4 linked regions of the Homo sapiens genome follow. The protein of the gene in region 1 interacts with the protein of each later gene in a pairwise test. Each region holds a gene or a part of one and is shown in the gene's direction. Other genes may lie near its edges. The genes, in order: SLC18A1, MFSD6, GIMAP1 and TMEM120B.

Region 1 (7,200 bases):
AATCTTTAGAGTCAATTCCTAGAAGTGGGACTGTTGGGTCAAAGGGTTTATTGTACTTTTAAATGTATATTTTAATGATTTACATCAGTTTCTTTACTTCGAATAATAATTGGGTAAGCGAATGATCTCTTTAGTTTTAGGATCTCTAAATTTATCAATCCACTATTGTGTGTGTGCAGAGAGGGTTATCATACCAAAATGATCCAATCTATTACAAGATAGAAAGTAGTAAACACCATGAAGGATTAGGACATAGTGTTCAGGATGTCTGGAAGAGAGAGAAGCCCCAGCTACTGAGTCAGGGAGCTCTCTAGAAAAGAAGGAGCCATTTAAGCTTGACTTTAAAGAGTGGGTAGAACATGGAACTATGGAGAAGCTCAGAACGTGTAGTTTAGGCAAAGGCAATAATGATGGCTGAGGCACTGCTGGGATGCTTGGAAAGAGGGTGGGGCGACCAAGTTTAGATGAGAGTGTGTCCTGACGAGAGTGGGTCCTGGATGTTTAGGCTGTATTTTAACCCTGCTTCTTCTACCTTAGTTCAGTGTGGCTCAAAATGATCAGAATGAAGAATTCAGAAAGCTTGAGAGGCTTTCTGAGTTATGGCTTCTGTGCTTGCTTTTGGGATTCGGTGCTCTGCCTGTGGTTCTCCCAGGACAAATATTAGTACCAGGGAGATCTAGTGGAAACCAGGAGTCCAGACATCTATTGTCCAACCCTGACCTTGCTACCAATCCACTCTGACCTTGTTGATGGTCACGTGAACGCAGGAACCATGGCTGGAATATGTTGCTTCTCTATCTGTGACTATTACAGTGCCTACCTTTCACACAGGAGGGGTCCTGCCTCCAGCTTCCTCTGTGGCATCAGACAAGTCACTTTCTCTCCCTGTACTGGGGTTCCTGGTCTCTGCAGTAAAGGAGATACTGTAGATGGTCTCTAAGCCCATAATTGTACTTTCTCAGATTCTGTGAAAATAGGAGAGATGTATGCACTGTACAAATGGACATTTTTTGTTATCCATGTTCTCAGAGTGCCAAGGGGACTCCCCTCTTTATGCTTCTCAAAGACCCTTACATCCTGGTGGCTGCAGGTAAGCTGGCGATGACCTCCCATTGGGCGGGGAGTGTCTGGGCTTCAAGCAGCCACGGCTGCTCACAGAACAGTCTCCCCAGGGTCCATCTGCTTTGCCAACATGGGGGTGGCCATCCTGGAGCCCACACTGCCCATCTGGATGATGCAGACCATGTGCTCCCCCAAGTGGCAGCTGGGTAAGTGACCTCAGCACCCCCGCTCAGGGCCTGGCAGGAGGAGGTGGGTGCCATGAGTCCTTTCGTTCAATGTCACACAGGGACAACATGCTTCCTTTGTAGAATGACCTCCCACGTCCACACCCATGAATCAAGCCCAAGAGGGTGTGTGGTCCCTCAGAGAAGCAGTCTGAGAAAGGGGAGGGTGAGAGAGGATGAAAGGGGCTATGGAGAGGTCACATACCTAGCTGTGTAGTAGGATGATTAATGATTTCCAGTCCAAAGATTCAGGTTTTGGTTTCAGCTCCTTTGATTTTCTGTGAAAACTTGTGCAGATGCCTTAAACCCTCTGAGCATCACTTTTCTCATTGCTAAAATGAGCATCAAAATACTATCTAGTTCAAGAGAAATTGGATGAATAAATGACATATGAGGTGAAAATGCTTTGTACCCTGTACAATATTAATGTGCACCATTACCATCCACATTCTCCTCCCTTCAGCTCCTCATCCTCAAGACTACCCTTTGGTTATCTTTTTTACCTCTAAAAAGGGGTGTATGTAGCACTCACTTAGGAAAAGCTATGGGCCCAGGAGAGAGGGTTCCAGCTTCCTTTGTTCATGCAGCGACTTAGAGAGGAGCTTGGAGAGGAGGATCTAGCCCTTCCCAGGAACCCTGAGGAAAGAGGACAGGGAAGGCTACGTGCAAATTGCTCCATCACTGCAGGGAGGAGAGGCTTACGGGGCCAGAGGGGAAGCTGATAAGAACATGATATAGTTCAGCATGCAATAAAAAGCACTAAATCTAATTTTGGGGGGGCAATTCTAAGCAAGACTCCCAGCTGCACTCCTAGTGCCAAATTGAATTTTTATGGGTTGCAAGTGCTTTTGACCATGACGATTAATTGAGTTAGTCGGTATTCAGTGCAGATAATTCATCGCCTGCCCTAAGGCTCTGACCACTCAGGGTCTCGATACTAGTGAGCAGCTACAACACAGAGCAGCTCCTCCCCAGCAGCCTAGGGACCATTCTCAGTTGCCAGTTACCAATTACTCAGTTACCAGTCACTCAGTTGCCACCATCTTTTACAGCTTTCTCAATGCTATCTGGTCTGTAAAGTCTGACATCAAAGGTTGTCCAACAACTACATCAGAATCACCTAGAGAGCTTGTTAAAACTCTGATTGCTGGGAGACAGTAGGCAATTTAGTCAAAACAAGTTTTCATCCCTAGTAAGTCTGCAGGTGATGCTAATATAGCTGGTCAGTGATCACACCTAGAAAATCGCTGCTGTACATGAAGAGCATCCCTCAAAGGTGTTGGGAGCCAAAGGAGTCCATGCTTTTGAAAGTAATGTGTAGTCTGCCTCTGAGTGCTTGCTATGTGGCCCACCATATACTAGGTAGCATCACCAAGGGGAGGAAATAGCCCAGGTCCACCTGGGTTTGAATGCTGACCACGTCACTTACTGATTGTGACCTCGGATAAGTTATTTAACCTCTTTGACCTCTGATATGGTGTGAATGTGTCCCCCAAAATTTATATGTTGCAAATTGAATCCCCAGTGCAACAGTCTTGAGAAGTGGGACCTTTGAGAGATGATGAGATCATGGGAGCACCCTCATGAATGGATTAAGGCCATTATCATGGGAGTGAGTTTGTCATAATAAAAGGGGAGTTCAGCTCCCTTTACATCTCTCTCATGTGTGCTCTCTCTCCATGTGACCCCCTTTGGCCATGTTATGATCCAGCAACCAGGCACTCCCCAGGTGGCCAAACAGACACTAGAGGCTTGCCTTTGAACTTCTTAACCTCCAGAACCCTGAGCCAAATAAATCTCTTTCATTGATAAATCATGCACTCTGGTATTCTGTTATATTATAGCAGCAGAAAATGGACTAAGACAGAAAATGGGTAATGAGAAACCGGGCTGCTGCTATAACAAATACTTGAAAATATGGAAGCAGCTTTGGAACTGGAAAATTGGTAGAGGCTGCAATAATTTGGAGGAGCAGGCTAGAAAGAGCCTGTATTGCTGTGGTTAAGGCATTAAGGGTGATTCTGGTGAGGGCTCAGAAGAAGAGGAGAGCTATAGAGAAAGTCTGAATCTTTTTAGACATTGGTTAAGAGGTTGTGACCAGAATGTTGATAGAAATATGGACAGTGAAGGTCATTCTGACGAGGTCTCAGATAGAAATGAGGAACAAGGTATTGGACACTAGAGTAAAGGCCATCCTTGTTATACAGTTACAAAAAACTTGGCAGACTTGTATCCATAACCTAGGACTTCATGGAATGAAGAACTTAGAGGCAATAAACTAGGATATCTGGCAGAAGAAATATCTAAGCAGCAAAGCTTCAGGCTGCTTTGTGGCTGTTTTAACTGCATATATAGTGACATGTGAAAGCAAAGAAATGATTTAAAGGTGAAATTTATGGTTAAAAGAGAAACAAAACAGAAAGACTTGGAAAATTTGCTGCCTGGCCTTGGAAAGAAAGAAAAGGCATCTTTAGGAGAGCACACCAAGACTGTGGCCAAGCAACCTAAAGTGATTAGTGTGGATAAAAGTGAGCCAGGCACCACTTATTAAGACTGTGGGAGAAAGACCCAAAGGCATTTTAGAGACCTTCGAAGCTGTGCTTCCCATTACTGGCCCAGAGATGTAGGAGGGCAGAATGGTTTGGGAATAAGCCTGGGACACCCTCCATGGGCTCACTGCCCAGGACCACCTTGGGACTCTGCTCTCTGCGTTTCAGTGCAGTGCCCCTCAACTGTGCCAGCCATGGCTCAAGTGGGCCCAGATGTGGCCTGGCCTCCCACTCTGGAGGGTGCAAGTGGTAAGCCTTGGTGGTGTCTATGTGGTGCAAATTTTGCACGTGCGCAGAATGCAAGAGCTATGGGTGCATGACTTCTTCCACCTAAATTTCAAAAGATGCCATGCACAGCCACTTCCAAGATCACGGAACTGTAGGGGCACCAGCATGGTGGCCTGCAAGCACAAGACTCCAACCCATGATTGCTGCTGGGTAGACTCAGCCCGGAAAGACCACAGACATGGGGCTGCCTGATGCCTTAGGGGTCCAAACTCCACTCCAGTGTGCCCAGGATTTTGGACATGGAGTCAAAGGCAATTATTCTCCAGCTTTAAGACATAATATTGTTTTCTGTTTTGGGCTTTGGACTTTCGTGGGACCTGTTACCCCTTTCTTCTTCCCTGTTGCTTCCTTTTGAAATAAGAATGCCTGTTCTATCTTTGTTCCACCATTATTTTTGAAAGTAGGTAAATTATCCCTTGGTGTGCATAGGAGAGTGGTTCTAGGACTCCTCACGGATACCAAACTCAAAGGATGTTCAAGTCCCTTACATAGAATGGCATCGTATTTGCATATAATCTACACACGTACTTCCATGTACTATAATCATTTCTCAATGACTTGTAACACCTAATGCAATGGAAATGCTATATAAATAGTTGTTATACTGTATTATTTTCTTTTTTGTATTATTTTTATCTTGTACTGTTATTTTTATTTTTTTTCCTCATATATTTTTGATCTGCGATTAGTTGAATCCAAGGATGTGAAACCTGCAAATACAAAGGGCCAAGTATAATTTGTTTTGATTTCACACGCTCACAGCTGGAGGGAATTTGCCTCAGGATTAATCGTACCTTGAATCTCACCCATAACTAATTTAGACAAGACTCTGGATTTTGGACTTTTGAGTTTACACTGGAACCACTTAAGACTTCTGAAACTATTGGGATGGATTGAATGCATTTTGCATTGTGACAAGGACATGAATTTTGGAGGCCGGGGGTAGAATGCTATGTCCTCCAAAATTTGTGTGTTGGAAACTTAATCCCCAATGCAACAGTGTTGAGAAGTGGAACCTTTAGTAGGTGATAAAGTCCTAGGGGCACCACCTTTATGAATAGATTAAAGCAATTATCATAGGAGTGGGTTAGTCACAAAAGGGGGGAGTTTGGCCCCTTTTTCTTTTCTCTCTCAAATGCCCTTTCTCCATGTGATACCCTTCGGCTGTATTATGACCCAACAAGAAGTCCCTCACCAGATGGCCAAGCAGATGCTGGTGCCATGCACTTGCGATTCCCAGCTTCCAGCATTGTGATCCAAATACATCTTTTTTCTTTAAGAATTACCCAATCTGTGGTAATATGTTACAGCAGCAAAAATAAAACAGACTAAGACCAACTTCAGTTTTTTAATTTGTAAAAAAGTAGGTATTTTTCAGAGTCATTTTCATCTGGAATCCTAAATGGATTAGCCCAGTGCGTGGAATACAGGATACTATCAGTAAATAAAAAATTATTTGTACAATTTTACTTTAAACCATTTTGATAGTCACAAAATGTGTAATCCCTCACCCCTTAGAGATTCACTGTGAAAAACAGATGTTTTTCATGCAGGGGTCATGTATCTATAAATACATATTCTGGAGCACCTATTTTGCACAAAATACTGCTAAAATGTAAGCTATAATCAGGTCCTAAAGAACGAGCAACGTGGATTGAGAAAAATCTAATTAAGGAAATTTTACACCATTTAAAATGATGTCAAGGAGGTGTATCTAGGAGGCTGTAGGCTTCCTAGAGGTGCTTACTTCCACATACTAGATAAACAATTGAGTAGTTTTAATTTTTTTAAGCAATTAAATATAAACGAATGGGTACAGTTTGCAACAGATTGCCACCTGTCCAGGATAGCCTACACAAATACACTAAGGTGTGCTTACTTCTACTCCATAGAAGAGAATATTAAAAGCAAACAAGTTGTCAGCCAATAAATGGTTGATTGTTGACTTTTAATTTAATTGTAATTGCCATGGTATTTTTTGTTAGCCTGCACTGTTTTTTTCTAGGTATAGAGAGGGATTAAAAGGGCTGGTGAGATCCAGACAAACTCACTCTGCTGATCTCAAACAGTTCCTTATACCAGAGCCATCTGTGCTACCACGCTGGGGGTGTGGCATAGTGGAAACACTTGGAGTTAGAGTGAGATGGCCTGGACTCAAGTCCTGACATGCCACTCACGAGTTATGATGATAATAATCAAGACCAGTGCTTGTAGGGCCCTTACTCTGCGACAGGCACGATGCAAAATGTTTGATATGCACTATTTTGTTTAAACCTCACAACTGGCCTGTCTGGTAGAAATTATGATTATCCCCATATTTCAGAGATTTCTTTTCTTTTCTTTTTCTTTCTTTTTTTTTTTTTTTTTTTTTTTTTTTTTGGCAGCTGCAAGATTTAATAGAGTGAAAACAGAGCTACCATATAATGGGAGGCGGCCCAAAGGGAATTGCCACTGCTGGCTGGAATGCCTGGGGTTTATATCCCGATCATTGTCCCTCCCTCTGTGCTCTCAGGTGATAGATTATTTGATTATTTCTTTACCTCCTGCTTTTAGCCTAATTGGTATTTTAGTGAGCTCTCTTTACTATGTGATTGGTCAGGTGTGAGCTGAGTTACTAGCCCCTTGTTTAAAGGTGGGTGTGGTCACCTTCCCCAGCTAGGCTTAGGAATTCTTAATTGGCCTAGGAAATCCAGCTAGTCCTGTCTGTTAGTACCCCCTCTCAACAGGAAAACCCAAGTGCTGTTGGGGAGGTTGGCTGATGACCGCTCTAACTGCTTCCTGCCGAACTGGGGCATAGTAGGGGTCATGCAGTTGAAAGTTCCTTGAGAGGGGTGCTTTCGATGTCATCAACATTGGAGCATGGGCTAGCAGGCCAGTCCAGGGGTCTGTAGTAGATCTTAGTCACAGACTGCATCTGGGGCTCCATTTGAAGAACCATTTATAGTTTTACAGCTTCAATTCTGGAAGAGACAAACTTAACCAGGAGGTTAAGATACAGAGATTGAAATGTATAGCCTAAAGTGCAGCGGGAGGTACATCCAACAGTTAGTAGGATTTTGGCCAAGGTTCCATCGAGC
Region 2 (7,011 bases), on another chromosome or scaffold:
ATAGTCTTCAGTGACAACATCCTCCTGAATTGCCTTCTACTTCTGACTGATCCTTCCTGGTTTTCTCTCCTATACCAACTGGTAAATGTTGGCCCTTCTCTGGGCTCTCTGAGTCTATTCTCTTCCTGAGTAATCCCCTTCAGTCCAATGACTGTAAATAGTACCTCAATACTGATGACTGCCAAATCCAGCCCTTTCTTCTGGGCTGTGGACTCAAGTTTAATTGCCTACTTCACAGCTCCACCTGCAAGGCTCACAAGCATCTCAAACTCACTGAGTCAAATGTGAATTCTTCCTTTTTTCCTTCCAGCCTGCTCCTCCCACAGTCTCCTCCCTCTCAGTAAAGGTTATCACAATCTTCCCTAGTTGCTCAAGCCAGAAACCTGTGAGTCATTCTTAACACCTCCTTTCCCTTGCCTCCCACATGCAACATATCACCAAGTATGCTCATATACTTCCCCAAACTCTCAAATCTATCTGTTTCTCTCCATCCCAGCCACTACCACTGTGGTCCATGCCACTGTTAACCTTTCTCCTTGCTACTGGTTACAGTTACTTTTTTTTTTTTTTCTTTGAGACAGGGTCTCACTCTGTCACCCAGGTTGGGGTACAGAGGTGTAATCATGGCTCACTGCTAAGGTTGGGAGATTGACCTCTCGGGCTCTGTCAATCTTCCTACCTTAGCCTCCCTAGTAGCTGGGACTATAGGCATGCCACCACACCTGGCTAATCTTTGTACTTTTTGAGAGATGAGGTTTGCCATGTTGCCCAGGTTAGTCTCAAACTCCTGGGCTCAAGTGATTCGCCCACCTTGGCCTCCCAAAGTGTTGGGATTACACGCATGAGCCACTACGCCCAACACCAAAAGAATCTTTACAAACACCTTACCATGTAATTTCTTTGCTGTCTCATAGGATTGTGCAACACCATGAGGCACCCTTCACATTGTATTGTACCTCCTAGCTGTGCAACCAGCCAACATTGCTCCTCTCCTAAAACATAGTGAGACTCCACCTGTACAAAAAAAATTAAAAATTGGCTGGGTATGGTGGTATGCACCTGTAGTCCCAGCTACCTGGGAGGCTGAGGTGTGAGGATCCCTTGAGCCCAGGAGTTCGAGGTTACAGTAAGCTATGATCACACCACTGCACTCCAGCCTGAGTGACAGAGCAAGATCCTGTCGAAAAGAAAAGAAAAGAAAACAGATTACTTTGGTGGCAAAGTGAAAAGTTGATTGGATGAGAGAACATTTTGAGGCAGAGAGACCAGAGAAATTTTGCAGGCAAAGGAGAGATAACAGAGATTAGGATAGCACAGGGATGGAGAGAAGAGGACAGGTGCTAGAGATATTTGAAAAGGTAGAATCAAGAGTTTGGCATCTGACTGGATGTCATAGACAGAGTCATGGCCCGCTGTAGATGTCCATGTCTCAATCCCAGGAGCCTGTGAATATGCTTCATGGTAAAAGGGACTTTGATGATGGGATTAAGATTCTTGAAAGGAGGAGATTACGCTAGATGATGAAGGTGAACCCAATGTAATGAGGGTCAGAGTCAGAAAAGGCAATGTGAGGATTGTGGCTGAGGTTAGAGTGGTGTGCTTTGAAGATGGAGGAAGGGTCCATGAGCCAAAGTATGTGAGCAGCCCCTAGAAGTGGAAAAGGTAAAAGAAATGGGTTATTCTCTACAGCCTACAGAAAGAATACAGCCTTGTAGTCACCTTGGTTTTAGTTCACTAAAACCCATTTTGGACTCTTGACCTCCAGAATCGTAAGATAATAAATGTGTGTTTTAATCCACAAAGTTTACGATAACTTGTTACAGCAGCAATAGGTAACTAATACACTGGGCATGGGTATAAGGGTGAAAGGAGCATTGAGAAGAAGGGCCTTGTACAACTGGGTGGATGGCTGTTTGGGACCCCAGAGTCTGGGAACCCAGAAGCAAGAGTGAATGAGGGGCCGGGTGCAGTGGCTCACACCTGTAATCCCAGTACTTTGGGAGGCTGAAGTGGGGGGATCATTTGAGGTCAGGAGTTTGAGACCAGCTTGGCCAACACGGTGAGACCCCATCTCTACTAAAAATACAAAAATTAGCCAGACATGGTGGCACATGCCTGTAATCCCAGCTATTCAGGAGGCTGAGGTAGGAGAATCACTTGAACCCGGGAGGCAGAGGTTGCAGTGAGCTGAGATCACGCCACTGCAATCCGGCCTGGGCGACAGAGTGAGACTCCATCTTAAAAAAAAAAAACGAGTAGGGGAAGAACAGAAGGTAAAGAAACATTGACGTGGCACTTAGTGAGGTTGGGGTGCCTGTGACACATCCCACTGGACAACTGGCCATAAGGATCTGGCCCTCAGGAGAAAAGCTGACCCCGAGAGAGGGCTTTTGGAGCACCCTCAAATATTCTGTGATTGAAGCCAAGGAGTGAGAGAATTCGCAGAAACAAACAGAATCAGAAGAAAGGAAAGCCTAGAACAAAACCCAAGGAAAACTAAAACTCAAGTGGAGCAAAGGGGAGTGGCCAGAGAGGAAGAGGAAAACCCAAGACTTGTGGGTCACAGAAGGCAGAGGAGGGGAGAGTTTCAAGGAGGAAAATCCAACACTTACGGAGCACCAAAAGAAGAGAAGGGAAGAGTTTCAAGGAGGGGACCAGTGTCTCGTGTTCCTGACAGGAGAAAGAAATGCCTGGAGAAAGAAATGATTGAATATCTACGTCAATATTGAAAGTGGATTTAGCATGAGGCTACTATAGTTTAAGCTTCAGAGACCCTTCATAAGCTCAGGAAGGGGCCCTAGAAACTTCGTATTTGTAATTGTTTTATTCTTCCTAAAGAGGGACTCAAAATTCAGAAACTTCAGGGCCTATCAAATTCTTACCAGTATGATTTCACGGTTAAGAGCTTAAAGCCTGGAGACAAAAGAAGCCTGCTTTCCCTTTCGCTGTTTAGTAACTTTGGATGGGTCACATTAACTTTCAGCCTCGGCTTTCCTCAGTTGTAAAATGGGAATAACGTTTCCTACACCTATAGGGTTATAAGGCTCAAAGAGTACCTACACAGTGCCCCGTACATAATCGATGTTTATAAGCGTTAGCTACCATTGTCACTCTTGTCGTTGTTGCCGTTAGCTACCATTGTCACTCTTGTCGTTGTTGCCAGAACAAGACAATAAACTCCTTAAGAACAGGATGTGGCATCCCCCAAAGCCCATCACAGGCACACAGACATACTTGCCAAGTGAATACTCCACTCTCCCCCAACTCTCTGCGTGTTTAACTAGAAATACAACTTTAATTATATTCTTAGTGCGACACACACGGTTGGCTTTTCAGCAAGATGCCAGTAGCAGCTTCCTGAAAAAGGGTGCCTTCGTCTCAGTGTTCCCCCTTCTTGGTGAGCCCCGAAACTCACAGATCGTTTGTCTCCCGCACCCCGCCGGCTCCTCCCTCCCGGGTCAACCTGGGACAGACGCGGAGATAACGCACTGACAGCATTAGCATTGTGTGTGCCACTTAAAAGGCGCTCAAGGAATAAGGGATGTTAGTACATTTTCCCCCACATTTCCTGGCCCGCACTCATTGCCTGGGGGCTCAGCGGAAGTCGCTTGGGGGTGCGGGGGGGTGGAGGGTGCGGTAGGGATGGAGCCTCGCCCAGTGCTTTCGCCTCCTCAGCGTGCTCCCCGGGCCCGGCTGGGTTCAGGTGTCCCTCCGGGCCGCCGGGGCGGGCTGGAGGCCGGGAGCGGGCAGTCGACGCATCCGCCGCCGCCGCAGGAGGCGGAGCGCTGCACCTGGCGGCCGGTCCTCAGCGCCCGGCCCTGAAACGGGTCCAGCCGGTAGTGACCGGCGGCGGCGACTGTGAGGCCGGGGCCGGGGAGGAGGAGGAGCCGCAGCGGGAGAGAAGGTCGCGCCGGCGGGAGCGCTGGGCCCTCCGCCTCCGTCCTCCGTGGCCCCACCCGGTCCGCATCCCTCGCCTCGCCTCGCCGCGCCCCGCCCAGCCCGTCGCAGCCCCGGAGGAGCGCGCGAGCAGCCCGGGATGGTGCGCGCTGCCCCGACAGCCGCCGCCCCGGCGCCCCGAGCCGCCGCCCCGTGCTCCGGGGACAGGGCTCCCCGCGCCCCGCGCAGCTGAGCGCTGCCGCCGCCGCAGCAGGTGAGTCGGGCCCGGCTTGCGGAGAAGGGGCTCGCAGACCCGCCCTGGCCTCCCCCGCCCCGCACGGGCCCAGCCGGAGGGCGGGTAGGCACCTCAGCCGCGCACACCTGCTGCCGGGAAAGGGGCTTCGGGGCCGGGGCTCGGAGCCCAGCGTGCGCCGCTGTCTCCGCTCGGGCCTCGCTCGCCCGCCGCTCCCTCCCTCCCTCCCTCCCCCGGCTTCCGTGTCGGGTGTCATCTTTGTGGGGTGCTGGGGGAGGCTGCCGCCTGCGCCCCCAGCGCGCCCCGTGCTGGCAGCACTTCCGCAAACGTAACTGGAGTCGGGAAAACAAAGGCGCTGCCCAGGGAGCCCTCGCCGGGCGCCCACAGCTGCTGCCGCGGGTGGGGACGGAGGGTGAGCGCCGATGCCCGGGTCCTCCTCCGCCCGGGCCGACCCGCGCCCTCGCCATAAACATCCCTGGGAAAAAGGAGGAGGTGAGAACCTCCACACAGCCCCAGTGACAAGGACGCGGCCACTTGTGTGGCAGGAGGAGGAAATTGACAACGTCTGCCCTCCCAGGTTAATAAATACGGAAAAAAAAATACCTCTGCTCTGCCAGCCACCATCCTAGCAGACATCCCCCACCTCGTGCTTTACTTCCACTTGGTCTAACATGTCTCTGGAGCCCTTTTGAGATACTACTGGGGGTTGCTAGTCTTTCTGGGTCATATTTATTGCCCATAGAGCAATTTTCCTGCAAATTTAGGTAAGATGGTGGAAAAATACAAACGCAACTTTCCCCCTCGTTAATCCCATCCCCACATGGACAGACAGGTGGGTTAATTACCTTTATGCATTCGCAACCACGGACGTTTCTTTTCATCCCAAAAAGATTGAATAAGCACCTCACAGAACTACTGGAACATATAATACCTTGCTTATTAGTGTGCAAAAGACTTAAAGAGTTGGGGTTCTAATCCCAACTGGTATTTAAATAGATGTGTGTGCTTGGGCATGTCACATCTTCCTGAGCCCCAGTTTTCTCACATGGAAAAGAGGATGGTTGGATATTATAGTGGCCAAAATTTCCCCTAATCCTTCTAGAAGTCCATGATTTTCTAGAAATCTAACCTCTTAAGTATAGATGAATGTGAAGGGTGGGTGGACATACAGTTGACTAAAATATGTAATAAAAGGAGATGTGTACTTGGTAGGTCCTTTCCCCAAGATGTGGGCACTAGCCAGCTAAAAGTGTATGCATCTGTTTTAGCCTTGTTAAGTAAAAGGATAGGATCCTCCTCTTTGGGAAGCTTGGCTTTTGACACGTCAAGCTGCTAGCAGAGGTGCAGGATATGGTCAGCTGTTTAGTGATAGTCAGATGGCTTGTATTTATCACGAGGTGTAAGTAAAATTTAGGATTGCTTAGGGGAAGGATGGGACATTGTTAATGAGCCCAGTGCAGGATGCTCTGGGGAAACAGGAGGAGAGAACATCACTTCAATAATGCATTAAAGCTACTAAGTAGTTGTGTGTCCTTCATGTTTACAGCAGTTTATTTCTAAGGCACTTTCCATCTCTATACAAATAAATATAAAAGCGTGAAGGCAAATAAAACACAAAGACAAAAAGCAGAGTTCACAGGTATTTGGTGGTGTGAGTATTGGATCACCAATTCCATCATATATAGTGTCTGGACTATTAACAGTATTAAGGCATTTTTTTGGGTACTTATTATGTTCAAGACACCATTGTAAACATTTAGTATCTCAATCTCTGTAAGATAAATCTTTCCCCTAGTTCTGTGCATGACAAAAAGGAAGCTCAGAAGGGTTAAGCAACTTACACAAACCACATAATCAGTAAGAGGTAGAGTTAAATTTGACCTCATGTTTCTGGCTCCAAAGCCCAGGAAATTTCCACATGGTGTCCCTCCCTAATCAGAACCTATTAAGTCTCTCCACCTACGCAGATGTCTTCCTTAGCTTCGTGCCTTTGAAAATTAACTTGATTTCAATGTACATGTATTACTTATGTTAACATTTAGCCATGTAGGATAATTTATATATTTATTACGTATGTATATTAATGTGTGTATGTTTACCCTTTTGTCCTCACCAGTTGTAGATTGAAGGCAGTATGAAGCTGACAGGTTTCTTTGTTTTACTTCCTTTGACAGCAAATCTTAATTTGGCAATCTCATTATAGGGAAAGGAAGAAATGCAAAAAATGTGTGTCTGCTAGCTATTTTGCACATTGGCTGAAAAATCAAGATGCTGTATATTAAATGAAAAAAATGGCTGGGCAAGGTGGCTCATGCCTGTAATCCCAGCACTTTGGGAGGCCGAGGCAGGTGGATCACGAAGTCAGGAGTTCAAGACCAGCCTGGCCAAGATGGTGAAATCCCACCTGTAATAAAAATACAAAAATTAGCTGAGCGTGGTGGCGGGCGCCTGGAATCCCAGCTACTCAGGGGGCTGAGGTAGAGAATTGCTTGAATCCGGGAGGTGGAGGTTGCAGTGAGCCGAGATCGCGCCACTGCACTCCAGCCTGGGCAACAGAGCGAGACTCTATCTCAAAAAAAAGAAAAAAAAAAACTAGCTTCAGAAGAAATTTATATACATTTGTTTAAACCTGCATACAGGCACACATACGCCTTTTTGTCCCCAAACTGTTGACAGTAGTTTTTTTTTTTTTTTTTCAGACAGAGTCTCGCTCTGTCACCAGGCTGGAGTGCAGTGGCTCGATCTCGGCCTACTGCAACCTCTGCCTCCTGGGTTCAAACTATTCTCCTGCCTCAGCCTCCCGAGTAGCTGGGATTACAGGCACATGCCACCAGGCTCAGCTAATTTTTATTTTTTTAGTAGAGACGGGGTTTCATCATGTT
Region 3 (5,372 bases), on another chromosome or scaffold:
AAGAGAGAGATAAGAGAGGAAGGAGAGAAAGAGGGAGAGAAAGAGAGAAGAAGGAAAGAGGGCTTATTTCACCCCCTCAACAGGCCTCTGAGAAACAGGCCCCTATTATCGCTCCCACTTTTGCCGAAGAGGCTTAATACTTAGATTATGCAGCTTCCCCAAGGTTACACAACCAGCACGTGGTGGGGCTGTGATTCAAACCAGGGTATCTGGGACTCCACACAGCTCTTCACTACCAGGCAGTATTGCCCCCACTGCCTGTCTCTGGGGATGGTCTCTGGGAGAATATTTCAGAGTCCATCGAAATTTTCAAATATGAAATAAATATGTCTGCATGTGTGTGGATGACCAGAAATGTCAGATGAACTATTGGGCTGGACTGATAAAGAAGCATTTCTATGATAATCAACTGTAGTTGGAGCATCTACTGGTGCAGGCAGACAACCCAAATACAAAAGGAAAAGGTGGAAATGAACGCCCAGGCGTTCAAATCTCTATTCTTAACCACTTATGCTAAAGGCAAGAAGATTCCAGTTCCCAAGGGGAAGTTGGTTAAACTTAAGTAAGATTATAACACTTGGTCTCACAGGTTTAGAAGAGAACGCTCAGTCCCGGCAGGAGTCCACGCGGAGGCTCATCCTTGTTGGGAGAACAGGGGCCGGGAAGAGCGCCACTGGGAACAGCATCCTGGGCCAGAGACGGTTCTTCTCCAGGCTGGGGGCCACGTCTGTGACCAGGGCCTGCACCACGGGCAGCCGCAGGTGGGACAAGTGCCACGTGGAAGTCGTGGACACTCCGGACATTTTCAGCTCCCAAGTGTCCAAGACAGATCCTGGCTGTGAGGAGAGAGGTCACTGCTACCTGCTCTCGGCCCCCGGACCCCACGCGCTGCTCCTGGTGACCCAGTTGGGTCGGTTCACCGCCCAGGACCAGCAGGCGGTGAGGCAGGTGAGGGACATGTTCGGGGAGGACGTCCTAAAATGGATGGTCATCGTCTTCACCAGGAAGGAGGACCTGGCCGGGGGCTCCCTGCACGATTACGTGAGCAACACAGAGAACCGGGCCTTGCGCGAGCTGGTGGCCGAGTGCGGGGGCCGGGTCTGTGCCTTTGATAACCGGGCCACCGGCCGGGAGCAGGAAGCCCAGGTGGAGCAGCTGCTGGGGATGGTCGAGGGCTTGGTGCTGGAGCACAAGGGCGCCCATTACTCCAACGAGGTGTATGAGCTGGCGCAGGTGCTGCGCTGGGCAGGCCCTGAGGAGCGGCTCCGGCGGGTGGCGGAGCGCGTGGCAGCCAGGGTGCAGAGGAGGCCATGGGGCGCCTGGCTGTCGGCCCGGCTGTGGAAGTGGCTGAAGTCCCCCAGGAGCTGGAGGCTGGGCCTGGCCCTGCTGCTGGGGGGCGCGCTCCTGTTCTGGGTGCTGCTCCACAGGCGGTGGTCGGAGGCCGTTGCGGAGGTCGGGCCTGACTGACAGCGCAGGTCCTAAAACTGAAGGCAACTTGGTTAAGGGAGGCTGAATTCTTGGAGCTGAAGGGAAAACTTCATTCCAACGGAAGGAATCCTGTAGTTTCAGGCATAGTTTTAATGACACAGAAAACTTTGCTGCATCACCTTTGCAACTTTGCCAAAGCTCAGAGTTCACTTTTTAAGTTTTTAACTCATTTTAAATGATGTGTATGCAGAGTTTTAAAATAAATTCGTCTAACAATAACTTCCTTTGGTAGTTTTGGTAGTCTAATGTCAAGTAGCTTGTAGTGGGGACAAACGCATGGCACAGGGAAAACAAGTGCCATTATTTTCGAGCTTTTTAAAAAATTTAGACTGCCCCTCCTTGATAATTTTCTAGTTCTTATACATGGGTAGATAGGTTCCTTTGTGATCCTTGTAGACTTTTAGCATCAATAAAAGAAATGTGGGGGTTACACACGTGAATGTTACTTCTGAGACATCAGTTTATAGTACAATGATTTACTACCAAAAAGATGAATGTAACTGTACTGTTACAAAGTGGAAAATAACAGTTTCCACTTTTCTAGAACATATTATGGTTCATGGCATTCCAAAATGAAGTAAGGGCCGGGCGAGGTGGCTCACGCCTGTAATCCCAACACTTTGGGAGGTCGAGGCAGGTGGATCACCTGAGGTCAGGAGTTCGAGACCAGCCTGACCAACATGGCGAAACCCCATCTCTACTAAAAATACAAAAATTAGCCAGGCGTGATAGCACTCGCCTGTAATCCCAGCCATTCAGGAGGCTGAGGCGGGAGAATCACTTGATGCAGTGAGCCGAGATCGTGCCACTGCACTCCAGGCTGGGTGACAAAGCAAGAATCTGTCTCAAAAAAAAAAAAAGAAAAGAAAAGAAAAAGAAAAAGAGTAGGATATTGGGAAAATAACATATAATATCTTCTATATGGTTATTCATATTTTTATCACACACACACACACACACACACACACACACAGTCTGTATCTCGAGCTCCTCTCTGGTTATGGAGAAGAGGCAGAGCACCAGGTGCATAGGCTGAGACTGCAGACACCTGAGCATCCTATGCTGTGAGGCGAAAGCATCCGGTTTTTTCGGGATGGGCCTGTCCAGGAAGGTTCTCGAATGCCACGTGATTAGAAAATTTGCCGCTGACTGGTTGTGCGAATCAAACAATAGGATTTCCTTATTTCTATTTCTGAGCATAATGAGAACCCTTTAAGGGAACTCATTGTCTTTAAATCAGCCAGCCTCTAGTGAGGTCATGGAGACATGGGAAGCAGGTATTCACATTAGCTCTATTCAAGAGGAAGAGGAGGAGGGAGTGTGCGCAGGCGCCCTAGGGTCTTCCCCAGCACACGTTGGGAAGAAGGGGTCTGCAAGCATGCGCACAATTGCCAGCTCAGGCTAAGGACTGCAGGAGGTTCCAGGTGGGTTGCGGGCTTCGGGCAGGCTATGGTGAGGGGTCCTGAGGGCCTTGGTGACCGCTGCAGGGAGTTGGACTTTTTGAAGCGTGGCTCAAGAAAAACCCATGTTTAATTCCTGCCTTTCGCTTCCTCAGCAGCCTTTCTGGGCCCAGGCAGGGGCCTCGAGCCAGGGAAGGATCCTTTGATGACCAGAGGGGACAGCAGGGAGGGCACAGCGTGGTCGTCCACGGTCACTTGCGCACGAGCCAGTGCTGCTGCTGGTGTTAGACAACAACTTTTATCAAAGTGGTTTAATGTACAGCAGCAACAAAGCTGCTTTGTGGAGCAGGGCTCCCAATAGGCAGTGTGCCCAGAGTAGCAGCTCGGAAGCAGTACTGCAATCACATTTATACCCACTTTCAACTATATGCAAATTTAGGGGTGGATTATGCCAAAATTTCTAGAAAAAAGGTCGTAACTTCCAGGTCGTGGGATTGTTGCTATGGAAAGGAGCCAAAACTTCCAGCTGTTGCCTTAGCAATGGTAACCTGACGTGGCACTGGTGAGTGTGTTTTATGGAGAGACTCTTTCACCTCTTCCCTTTCAGCTTGTCTTCAGTGTGGTCTGGAGCCCAATCCCCACCTCCAGAGTCTAGTCCTGCCTCCTACCTCAGTAATAAAAAGTAGTAGTATATGGTTAATTGTCAAATACATTTGCAAAGTGTAATCAAAGATACATTACCAATCTGAATCTCAAAATGTGCTATCATCTTTGAATTTGAATAATGTATTATTAAAGAAGTTACAGTTTTCCTTTACATTCAATAACATTTCTTTAGTGGTTTTCTTTTTCAGATACTTTGATTATGATCTTTTTTTTTTCATCTTTGTATCCCCGTTATACAACCCAGTGCCTGGCATAGAAAGTGGGATCAACAAATGTTTGGAAAATGAATTGTAAAGTTGACTTTCCTGTACCTTTTTAATATTAGATTTCTAGCTACCAGACTTTTGACCATTTTCTAAATTTTCTACCATAGATAACAGAAAATTCTTTCGCGCAAGCATGTCATTGTATTAATGATATTCTCCTGCCCTAAGGAAATTTACTTCCCTTCAAGCACAGGGTCCCCCAAATTACTGTATTTCCACCCCTTTCAGCTTATTTTATCCTTTTCTCCTGCTACAGAACAGTTGGCATTCACCATTCCCTTCGGTAAAGTCTTTTTTTAGGCTGTGGCTTAAAGGTTGCTTTTTCCCCCATAGCTCAAGGTTAGGCCTTGTGACCTCACTTATGTAATTTGAGTGATTTGATAGCACAAATCAATTTTATACTTAAATTACAGCATAAAACAGCACTGCCTCCTGTTGGAAAAACTTGCTTGCTAATTTTAACCAGACACAGTAAAAATACTGTCCAATACCTCAAAAATTGTGTAAATATATATCCATTTCAATTGTCCCCCTTCCTCTCCTCTCCTTTTATCTCTTGGAAGATAAAAATGTATGGGTCCTGTGCTGATAATGTTTCTGTTCATATTTCTATGCCCTGGTACCTGGATCAGCTTTTGTTCTACACAAAAAGACTTGTATCTGGCTTATTTCTGAAAGCTAGTGTTGGCCATGATGAACTTTTAGAGCAAAAGATTTCAGGCAGAGTACATTCTTACATATTCTTACACAATCAATATTCAGTTCCAGCCCGCACAGTAGCCCTAGCAAATGCCAGTGCTCCTTCCAGAGATTCACCTATGGATTCAGTACCCCAGAAGAGAATTTCTGTAAATTCTTGGGGAAGCTATAGCTAGACTATGGCTCAACACTCATTTTTCCCCCATGATTCTTAATCTAACAGTGGCAATGTTGGCCTCTTCTTAGGCAACTAGATTCGGTTCTTGCTTATTCTGCCAATAAAATACTTTATTGAGATGCTTACAAATTTGTCCCCTCCTCTTTATTTCTTTAAGAAGTTATCACTCCATATACTGGATGTTTAGTTATAATTATTGGTTTGAGTCTTATTTTTATACTTTCAATCACATTCTTTGCCTAATTCTTCTCATATTTTTATATTTTCTTTCCCTCCTCATAATTCTCTTTACATACCACTAAGTTTAGGCACTTGGACTTTTTTTACTTTCAAAATGGTGTTATATTGTGCATATCCTCTTGACTTCATACGTCTGAAGACTCCTAGACTATCTTTTCTACTACATGCTAGCAGAATGTATCATGATGAACACTGAAGAGAATTGCATACCACTGCTCAAAAATTAAACACACACACTTGCATGCATGCAAACGTGCGCGCGCGCACACACACACACACACACACACCAAGGATAGACATCTCAATCTCAAGAAATAAAAAGGAAAGAAAGACTTTCTGACTTCCAGTTCTGCAGAAGGATCAACTCCAGGTTTTAAGCCTGAATTATCAAAATTTGTCTCCAGTAGGCAGAGAAGGCCTTCTTCTTGGAAAGCC
Region 4 (4,017 bases), on another chromosome or scaffold:
TCAAAGGAGGCCAGGATGTCTCGCCTCCTGAACTCCACAGGCTGGTAGAAGCGGGGCTTGAGGGACAGCAGGTTGGGAGCTTGAGGACTAAGTGGGCCAGTCCTGTCCTACCACAGTGGGGGGAACAGTCCACAGAAAACTTGCTCATGACCACACTGGGAGCCGACTGTTCTTCCCATCCCAAGTCTCTGACACTGGGGGCTTTGGGTGAAACCTTAAGGAGATGGTCAGATGGGTGGTCCAGGGTATACTTTTAACAACTGAGAAGCCATTTTTTCTGCCCCCTGGGCACATGTGCCCAGCTCTGCAAAGACAGTGGCCAAGTTGAAGACAAGTCTTCCATGTGGGGTGGAGATGGGAGGGGTGGGTGCCAGGCTGCAGCCTGTGTCCTCCTGATAGGCCCAGCCCCCTCGGTGGCCTCCGTGTTCCTGGGGGAAGGAAGGAAGGAGCTGGAGGATACAGTGGTGCCTATCTCGGGAGCCCAGGGAGGCAGGGACACAGGAGTGGCAGGCTTGGGGCGCCCGCGTGGAACAGTGCCAGGTCTACGTTTACCCACTACCAGATAGACTTTTTCATTTCAAGCATAACTTGAGTCTGCACTGGGGAGACACTCGTGGTGGGGGTGGCTGTGATGAGGGCACTTGCGAGTCCCGACAACAGACACTGGCTCCTGCACCCACATCACCACCATGTCCCAGGGGCAGCCTGGAGGGGAGTTTGTGGTCAGAGCCCCAGCCAGGAAAGGAGAGAGTTCCAGAATGTTCCAAGAGTCTAGCCGCAGGCCCCAGACACCATGAGCTGGAGGGTCGGGATGGGGCAGCCTCCCTGGTGCAATCGGCACCTGGGCCCCCGGGCCCTGTCAGTGCTGTCGTGAGGTCTGTCTGCCCTGGGTCAGAGCAGCAGGCAGAGCCGGCGCTTCTTCTGCCGTTGCGCCTTCTTCAGAGCGCTGAGAGCCACCTTGGCGGCCTCCCGGAAGACGTCCTCCACATTCTCCCGAAACTTGGCGGAACATTCCAGGTAGAGAGCAGCTCGGATCTGTTCGCAGGCGCTCAGGCCCTGGGTGGGGGGAGGAGCCAGCATTAGGTGAGGGGCCCCTGGAGGTCTCCTAGCACCACCTGGTGGGTTTGGGACTGGCTCTGAGGACTCTGCAGGGATGGAGGCCTTGGTTTGGGCCTGTCTGTCTCCTCCATCCTGGCTGCCCCTCACAGTGTGTGGGTGGAATGGAGGGCCAGGGCAGTGCAGCCCGCAGGTTGGAAGAAGCCCTGTCCAGGCCCCCACCCTGGCCTCTCTCCAGCTCCGGGCAGGGAGGGGCTGAATCCTGAGACCCGGGGTTGGTTCCCCCAGGTGTCTCCCAGGCCTGTGAGAAGAGTTGGAGGCCTCAAGACAGAAAGGACTTCCAGCCACCTCTCTCCCTTCTCTGAAAGTACCATTTAGGCAAATTAATTTGCCCTTTTATTTATTTATTTTTGAGATGGAGTTTTGCTCTTGTTACCCAGGCTGGAGTGCAATGGCGCGATCTTGGTTCATCACAACCTCTGCCACCCAGGTTCAAGCGATTCTCCTGCCTCAGCCTCCCGAGTAGCTGGGATTACAGGCATGCGCCACCATGCCCGGCTAATGTTGTATTTTTAGTAGAGATGGGGTTTCTCTCATGTTGGTCAGGCTGGTCTCAAACTCCCAACCTCAGGTGATTCGCCCGCCTCGGCCTCCCAAAGTGCTGGGATTACAGGCGTGAGCCACTATGCCCGGCCGGATTTGCCCTTATTAATGGTTATTTCTTGTGAAAGTTTCTTTTTGCCTTTGCATTCCTTTTATTCTGTTTATTCCCCCATGCCTCACCCAAAGAGTTGCACGGTCAATTGGCCCGTGAAGGGGACGCCTACTTTCAAACAAGGCAGACAGGACACGACAGGACGGCGGCTCATAGCACAGACTTTGGATTGCAGTGGATGGGACCAGATCCTGGCTCCACTTCTCGCTAGCTGTGTGGCCCTGGGCAAGCTGCTTAACCTCTCTGGGCCTCAGTTTCTCCCCCTGTAAACTGGGGGATGTGAACAGCGCCTGCCTCCGAGTCCTAAGGATTGGGAGTAGTCGTGTAAAGTGCTCAGGTCCACAGGCCATCAATACTAATAGTTAAAAATTATTCTTAGAATCTTGCTTCCCTCAGCTCCCTGAAAGGCCACTAAGGCACCCCAGTTGCAGAGGCCAAAGGTCCGGGAGGCTTCACAGCCACGGCTGTGCCCCAGGGTCTTGGCCCCGGCCCACCTGCATGTAGGTGATGGGCTCCAGCTGGGCGGCCCGGAGCTTCCGCAGCTGCTCCTTGTCCTTCCTCAGGTCTGTCTTGCAGCCGATGAGCACCATGGGGATCCCGCGGCAGAAATGCGTGACCTCAGGGAACCACTGTGGAGGGAGGAGGCGGGATCAGGGGTGCGGCCGGGCCCAGATGTGGGGCCACCACCCAGGAGGCCGGCCTCACCTTGATGAGGACGTTGTCGTAGCTGGTGGGATTCATGACGTCATAGCAGATGAGCACGAGGTGGGTGTTCTGGTAGGACAGGGGCCGCAGCCGGTCATAGTCTTCTTGCCCTGAAAGCACAGAGCAGCGGGGGTCAGGGGACGTCCCCTCCCTGTCTGGACTCTGACGGGTGAAGGGGAAGGGGCCAGGCAAGTGACCCTGCCTTAGGGCCTCAATTTCCTCATCTATACAATGGGCAGCAAGCCAGGAGTGCTGGCACAGGCCTGTGGTCGCAGCTACTCGGGAGGCTGAGGCCGGAGGATCGCTTGAGCCCAGGAGGTCAAGGCTACAGTGAGCCGTGATCATGCCACTGCACTCCAGCCTGGGTGACAGAGCGAGACCCTGTCTCTTAACAACAAAACCCATGAGCGGCAGCCCCCCAGTCCTGGATGGTGGTAAAGAATCCTCAAGATCAAACCCACGCAGTGCTGAGAGCTTGGCCTGATTCTAGGGCTGGGGCTGGAGAAACTGCTAGAGATGATGCCGATAGCCAGTGTGATCCCCCTGCCCTGATGGTCAAGGGCAGAGTGCAGACTGGAACCCTCCCCTCCCCAAAGATTCAGACCTGTGGGGCTGAGTGGGCTCATAGTGTCCCCAAGTCCTGAGAGGCTGGTGTCTGGCTTCAGCCTCCAGCTTCTCAGGTTCTGATGCAGTCAGCTGAGTTCCCTGCCTATTCTTGCAAGCACTAGGAGGAGGGTGGTGGGTTGCTGGGAACAGCACCGAGCGCCCTCCCCACCCAGATTCACAGAGCACACTCCCTGGGGGGATACTTTAATCCGGAGGCCGTGACGCCTGGCTCCGCCCCGAGACGAGCTGAATCCAAATACGGATCTAGGCTTGAGCTTGGTTGGGTTTGCTTTTTTCTTCTTCTTCTTTATAAACAATTCTTTGTAACTTTTTGTATTGACAGTTTCAAACTTACAGTAAAATTGCAACACGAGTATGAAGAGCTCTCTGACTGTGATTCACCACCTGTTTGCATTGGCCCCTCTGACTTTATCTGGAGACAGACACTTCTGTTTCTCCCTGTCAGGGCACGGTAACTGTAGACATCTGCCTCTTCACCCCTTAGCTCAGCGCCTATCTGCTGAGAACAAGGGCGTTCTCTCCCCTGCCCCAAGCCCCCAGAAACCGCATGGACTCTGCATTCTAATCTGATCCACAGACCATAGTCAGATTTTGACCATTTCACCAATATTGTCCTTTATTTTTTTCCCCGTTGAGGAGCCAGCCCAGCCCAGGGTTCTACACTGCACTTAGTCATCCTGCCCCGGTATTTTTTTAAAATCCCCACAGTGAGAACTGAGAGCTTTTCAGGCTCATTGGTGACCAGCCCCCCGCCCCTCCACTTCCTTCCACTGAACAAGGAACGTGGAGGCCCAGGAATCCCCCTGCCCTGTCCGCAGCTGTTGCAGGTGCTGGGTGGCACCAGCCTGCCCCCCGTTCCTTCTCTGCCAGACACCTCTCAGGACAAGTGGCCTCTCCACGGAGTACCACCAGGC

What was found.
Region 2: the proteins of SLC18A1 (region 1) and MFSD6 interact in binary tests that used the Homo sapiens proteins (3 or more experiments, as listed by UniProt).
Region 3: the proteins of SLC18A1 (region 1) and GIMAP1 interact in binary tests that used the Homo sapiens proteins (3 or more experiments, as listed by UniProt).
Region 4: the proteins of SLC18A1 (region 1) and TMEM120B interact in binary tests that used the Homo sapiens proteins (3 or more experiments, as listed by UniProt).

The regions. Positions count from the first base shown.
Region 1 is NC_000008.11:20,158,937-20,166,136, reverse strand, and holds part of SLC18A1 (chromaffin granule amine transporter), read left to right. Parts: intron 1-1,029; coding exon 1,030-1,090; intron 1,091-1,172; coding exon 1,173-1,268; intron 1,269-7,200.
Region 2 is NC_000002.12:190,404,354-190,411,364, forward strand, and holds the start of MFSD6 (major facilitator superfamily domain-containing protein 6), read left to right. Parts: upstream 1-4,001; 5' UTR 4,002-4,150; exon of another isoform or gene 4,151-4,706; intron 4,707-7,011.
Region 3 is NC_000007.14:150,719,459-150,724,830, forward strand, and holds the end of GIMAP1 (GTPase IMAP family member 1), read left to right. Parts: intron 1-589; coding exon 590-1,467; 3' UTR 1,468-4,826; downstream 4,827-5,372. Other genes in the region: GIMAP1-GIMAP5 protein, read left to right, coding at 590-948. UniProt on the Homo sapiens protein: May regulate lymphocyte survival. Required for normal levels of mature T-lymphocytes and mature B-cells.
Region 4 is NC_000012.12:121,778,607-121,782,623, forward strand, and holds the end of TMEM120B (transmembrane protein 120B), read left to right. Parts: 3' UTR 1-891; coding exon of another isoform or gene 892-1,056; 3' UTR 1,057-2,265; coding exon of another isoform or gene 2,266-2,400; 3' UTR 2,401-2,476; coding exon of another isoform or gene 2,477-2,586; 3' UTR 2,587-3,462; downstream 3,463-4,017. Other genes in the region: rho-related GTP-binding protein RhoF, read right to left, coding at 892-1,056, 2,266-2,400, 2,477-2,586. UniProt on the Homo sapiens protein: Necessary for efficient adipogenesis. Does not show ion channel activity.